Linked DNA regions of Homo sapiens: region 1 is linked to region 2. The links come from fine-mapping of genetic effects on gene expression. A gene starts in region 2. The other region holds a variant in brackets. All regions are shown on one strand. Distances are from middle to middle.

What was found.
Region 1: its variant is fine-mapped to the expression of COG1 in tibial nerve (GTEx, PIP 0.99).

Annotation. Positions count from the first base shown.
Region 1 is chr17:72,563,730-72,566,627 of GRCh38, forward strand. The region is part of intron 1 of LINC00673 (long intergenic non-protein coding RNA 673); the gene reads right to left. Among named protein-coding and RNA genes, the nearest start is that of LINC00673, 28 kb to the right of the region's middle. The variant A/G (reference allele first, on the strand shown) is at 1,213.
Region 2 is chr17:73,191,446-73,194,276 of GRCh38, forward strand. COG1 (component of oligomeric golgi complex 1) reads left to right here and starts at 1,610. Exons shown (of 14, transcript NM_018714.3): 1 at 1,610-1,939. The coding sequence starts at 1,625. RefSeq lists enhancers at 837-1,596, 882-931, 1,562-1,841 and a silencer at 1,892-2,101.

The DNA of each region.
Region 1 (2,898 bases), 630 kb before region 2:
ATTCTCCTGCCTCAGCCTCCCAAGTAGCTGGGATTATAGGCAAGCGTTCATAAATGTTCCCATACACGTCTGTGGCTCATGCTACATGGTATTCGGTTGAATCTGCTGCCTCATGGCTCTATAAAAGGCAAGGTGGGGGGTGTGCATATGTGTGCACATGAGCATGCATGCACGTCTGGCTATTTTTTCATATTTTCAGTAGAGACGGGGTTTCACCATGTTGGCCAGGCTGGTCTCGAACTCCTGACCTCAAGTGATCCTCCCACCTTGGCCTCCCAAAGTGCTGGGATTACAGAAGGCAAGCACATTTTTAAACCACAAAACACAAAAAGTCAGATCCACCTGCGAGCGTGCATTCTGTCTGGCGTCAGCCCTAATAGTCTCCCTCTCTTCCATCATTCAGGGCCCCAGGGAGTCGAGTGCTTACTCAGCACTTAGACCAGGGGATTCAGGGATTTCTGCCTGGAAAGCCCCGTCTCTCCTGTCTTGGTGGTAACCTGGTCCCTTTTACCTGCAGCTCTGGCAAACGCCAGCTGCTGGGTGCTTCCTCCTCCTTCATGAGAAAAGATGAGAAACTGGGGTAAACAACCCACCAAGGGCAGGTATGGAGAGAAGAAGGAAAGGCTAAGACACAGATGGGAGAAGACAGACAGGGAGAAGGTAGGGAGAAGATGACCCATTTGGACCTGCTCCTCAATGCCCAAGAAGCAGAGAGTTTTTCAAGGACAGCTTTAATAATAAGAGCTCTTCTTCGAAGCTCAGGGGGATGGATGGAGGAAGAGTGTGAGACCCACAGCAAGAGCAGCAAGCTGACACCTCCCTCGCCACAGCTGGAAGCCGCTGCCCACTGACCAATCCCATAGACGCCCTTCACTCCCCAGCCTCCACACCCCTGGCTAAGAGGACCCAGAATGGATAGCACAGTTGTTTTTTTTCCCCCTCTCCCAACCTCCCTGGGGCTCAAGGAACGGGATAAGGGTTATGACTGCCAGATCAGAGACTCAAGTCACTTCAGATGTTCCTTTTTTTTAAAAAAAAAAAAAAAAAAAAAAAAAAAAGGCCGGACGCGGTGGCTCATGCCTGTAATCCCAGCACTTTGGGAGGCCGAGGTGGGCGGATCACGAGGTCAGGAGATCGAGACCATCTTGACTAACACGGTGAAACCCCATCTCTACTAAAAATACAAAAAAAGAAAAAAATTAGCCGGGTGTG[A/G]TGGCGGGCACCTGTAGTCCCAGCTACTCGGGAGGCTGAGGCAGGAGAATGGCGTGAACCCGGGAGGTGGAGCTTGCAGTGAGCCGAGATAGTGCCACTGCACTCCAGCCTGGGCGAAAGAGTGAGACTCCATCTCAAAAAAAAAAAAAAAACAAAAACAAAAAAAAAAAGCAAGGCACAAAAGTGCAATCTGTGGTGAAAAACTGGAACTCAAAGGCCAAGAGTTAAGGACTGGTTAAGGAAACAATGGCCCACTGACTCACTGGCCCTCAAGCACCATTGAAGATAATTATCAATGTAGGCTGCAACATAGAAAATTGGTCTTATTATAAAGTGAAAGAAGGAAGATACGTAGAATATCCATGGAATGGTTCCATCCTGCCAACGCGATATGAACATCTGGTCCAGAGCTTCAAGAAGATAACAAATGTATTTCATCTCTAGGCCTCTGTCAACTTTTCAAATTTTCTACCACTGTTTTCACACCAAGACCACCATAACAGCCTTAGCATTATGCATTTGCAACTTGCGTACCTCCCTGATGTTTCCCGTCCCCTCTCTCCCTTTACAGAAGCAATTACTTGGGCCAGGCACAGTGGCTCACGCCTGTAATCCCAGCACTTTGGGAGGCCGAGATGGGTGGATCACTTGAGGTCAGGAGTTCGAGACCAGCCTGGCCAACACGGTGAAACCCCGTGTCTACTAAAAATACAAAAAATTAGCTGGGCATGGAGGCGGGCACCTGTAATCCCAGCTACTTGGGAGACTGAGGCAGAAGAATCACTTGAACCCGGGAGGCGGAGGTTGCAGTGAGCCGAGATCATGCCACTGCACTCCAGCCTGAGCAACAGAGTGAGACTCCCTCTCAAAAACAAAAAAAAAAAAAAGAAGAAGAGCTCTTGGAATAAGAGCTGGGCCGTCCACCACACGTGTGTTCGTGTGCACACGCACACACACAAACACTCGGCAGTTCCACTTAACCATTCTCAAGTCAGAGCAACTGGTGGCTCTTGAGGCCAGGCCATCAGCATGGGGAGGACAATGTGGCTTTTCTCTTTCAAGGGCTGTTTGCTTAACACTGAGACCTCCTGAGCCTGAGCAAGGTTATGAAAGGGGGACGACTTCTCAGCTCTCAGCGTCTGGAAGGAATCCCAATGCACACTGCTCCCTGGTTTCTGATGTTCCTTGTGCCCAGTGGTCCTCCTGGGATGGAAATGCAGGGGCAGAGAAGAGGAAGATGGACTACAGCCAAGCATCGCTGGGGATGGAGGATGGCGTGGAAAGAGGGTGCCCCAGGGCCACTGGGCAAGCCTAGAGATTCGTTTCTCCTTTGAGTATCTCCCAAAAATTCTTCACTGGAACTCGAGCCTGGAAGTCCACTCAAGGGAACAAATCATCCATAAGCAGCAGCCATGTGCCAGGCAGGTCCAAGAGCAGAATGGAAGAGTCTTCAAGGATTTCCAGGATGTGGAGTTTGAGAGTGGAGGAAGAGAAGAGATCAGAGGCCAGGAGTTCACCAGCACAGCCCCAGTTCCTTGCACCAGGACAGTTTCATGGCCAAGCCCTGCTACCCTGTTAGTCAGGGTACCCGGCCACCCTTGAGACTCATTGGCTAAAGAATTCACTCACTACACCGCTGTCCGGTATGGCTTTTGTCCTGTTACAAAAACCCCCAGTTTGGCCGAA
Region 2 (2,831 bases):
AGGCGCTTGTGCCTGCTGTGCCAGTCCCAGGCCGCAGGCTGGCACCGTAGCTATAAAGGGCGCCAGAAAAAAAGATTTTGCTAGATAGCGATGAATTCCCCAATCACAGAAAGGAGATACTGCGGATGCTTATCAGCCGAATACCAGTAAGTGTCCCTTGCAGAATGGGATTAGAGACTGCAAACTGCAGGCCTGCCAACAGAGGGTGCTCTGTGGGAAATTATGTGAAAACGTAGAAAAGAGCGCGAGCCAGTAATTTAAAAATCGACGTCCAAATACTCACTGGGTCACCTATCAGCTATGTAATTTGGGCAGGTAAATAAGCTTTTGTTTCTTTTTTTTTTTTCCTCATAAATGGACTAGGAATATTACTCCTACCTACCTGGCATGGCCGATGTGCGAGAAAATGAGATAATCTCGTGGACAGGCTCTGAAAACTGCACTTTTACTGAGTAAAAAACCCTTTGCCTCTCCGGGCCCCCGTTTCCCCATCTGTAAAATGAGTCTGTAAAGTGAGAATGATACTCCCTACGCCGCAAGGCTCTTGCGGGTTAAACTGGAATATTATAAATGCACCATTTATTTGCAGATTGAAATTCTGTGCGTCCGGAGGTGGCGGGTGGGAGAGGGAATGAGCAGGGATGCAGGGTAGGCCCTGAGTTGCTGGGGGCTCAGCATGGCCGCTGCGCACATTGCATCATTTTGTCGACACTGGTGTGGGTGAAATCTTCCAAAAGAAATTAAAACAGAAAAAAAAAAAAAGAAGGGTCTGGGACTTAGCAGAAACAAGCCACAATCTCCAGATTCTACTATTCCTGGGCCACGTGAGGAGCGCCCACCCGTCTGGCGCTGCGTTCCCCGGGGCGTCCCAGCCTCTCCCGCCCAGCCCGCCGCCCTCCTCCCCCATGGCCACCAAGGTCAGGCTCTCGCAGGGAAAACGTCTTCAGGGGCTAAACATCGGTTTTAAACGAAATGGAAAACCTCCAACACGAATCAACAGCAGAGGAAAAGCAGACGCCAAACAAGCGCTCAGAACCCCTTCAGGGGCGGCGTGGTAGCTCTTCCCGGGGAACAGCGAGGGGCGCGGATGTCCCTCTTCCTAAAACTGCACGCGGGGTGCGATCCGAGACCCAGCGGCGGCGAGCGCGCCCGAGTCTGCTCGCGGGCGCCAGGCGCGCGGAGAGCGGCGGCTGCGCCTGCGCCAACGCCGTCAGTCCGCGGGGCCCGATCCCGACACCTAACTCCACAGAGAAGCTCTGCTCCTAAGGGAAAGGGAAGACTTCAGCCACAGTTTCGCAGCCAACCTGGCGACCTCACCTCTCTGGCGACCTCACTTCCCAGCCGGCTCCGTTTAAGAAAACCCCGCGCAGGACCGCGCCCGCCCCCGCGCCCGCGCCCGCCCCCGCCCCCTCGCGCCCGCCCCCTCGCGCCCGCCCCCTCGCGCCCGCCCCCTCGCGCCCGCCCCCTCGCGCCCGCCCCCTCGCGCCCGCCCCCTCGCGCCCGCCCCCTCGGGTAACAAACATGGCCCCCGGCGGGGCGGAAGCGCTTCCGCCCCCAACGAAGATGGCGGAGGGGGCGGGACTAAAAGGGCGTAGGTAGATCGCCGGGGGCTGACGAGTGCACCATGGCCACCGCGGCAACCTCACCCGCGCTGAAGCGGCTGGATCTGCGCGACCCTGCGGCTCTTTTCGAGACGCATGGAGCGGAGGAGATCCGCGGGCTGGAGCGCCAGGTTCGGGCCGAGATCGAGCACAAGAAGGAGGAGCTGCGGCAGATGGTGGGCGAACGGTACCGCGACCTGATCGAGGCGGCCGACACCATCGGCCAGATGCGCCGCTGCGCCGTGGGGCTAGTGGACGCCGTGAAGGCCACCGACCAGTACTGCGCCCGCCTCCGCCAGGCCGGCTCGGCCGCGCCCCGGCCACCGCGGGCCCAGCAGGTCAGTCCCCGTGCCCCCACCCTGCGACCCGCAGGCGGGTCCCGGAGCCCCTGGCCTTGCAGGTCAACCCCGCCCCCCTCTGTCAGTCCCAGACCCCGCGAGTCCTCACCTTCCTTAGCCAGGAGCCTATCCGCCCCTCACCCTTTGGGCCCCCCTCAGAGGACAGTGCCAGCCTTCCTTGCACATATGCGGCTGCTGATCCGTTCTGGAAATGCCATTCAACAGTTTCTTCAGGCGCTTTCCCCCGACTTCCGGGCCTTGATTCCTACACCTCACTGGGCTCCTTTCAATTTTAGCGGAAAACGCCAGGAGTTTCTGTCTTGACAGTTCAACGCTCACCTATATAACATGTCCTGACATTGTTTTTCCTCAGGTTTCTCCCCTATGTTGACACCTGCACTCCAAGTCATTTCTTCCTCATCCCAACCTTCCCCTTATCTCCCCAAGAATAACTTCCACAACCCCAAATAGCTGTTCTACCCTTTGGGAGTTGTTGAGGGTACCAGCTATCAAGCCCTTAACTTTATGTATGTATGTGACAGGGTCTCCCAAAGTGCTGGGATTACAGTCATGAGCCACCACAGCCGGCCAAGCCCTTACCTTTTAATAGCTGAACATTTTCATTTTCAGAACTAAGGCTTTTTTCATTCAGGTTCTCCTTATCCCGTGTTCTTCCCCCCAAACGCTATTGATTAGACACAATGAGGAAGGATGGGAGGTAAACAAACACATCCTCATATTGGAGCTGCAGCTTGCGTTCCTAAAGAATTTTTATTGGCCGGGTGCGGTGGCTCACGCCTGTAATCCCAGCACTTTGGGAGGCCGAGGCGGGTGGATCACGAGGTCAGGAGATCCAGACCATCCTGGCTAACACGGTGAAACCCCGTCTCTA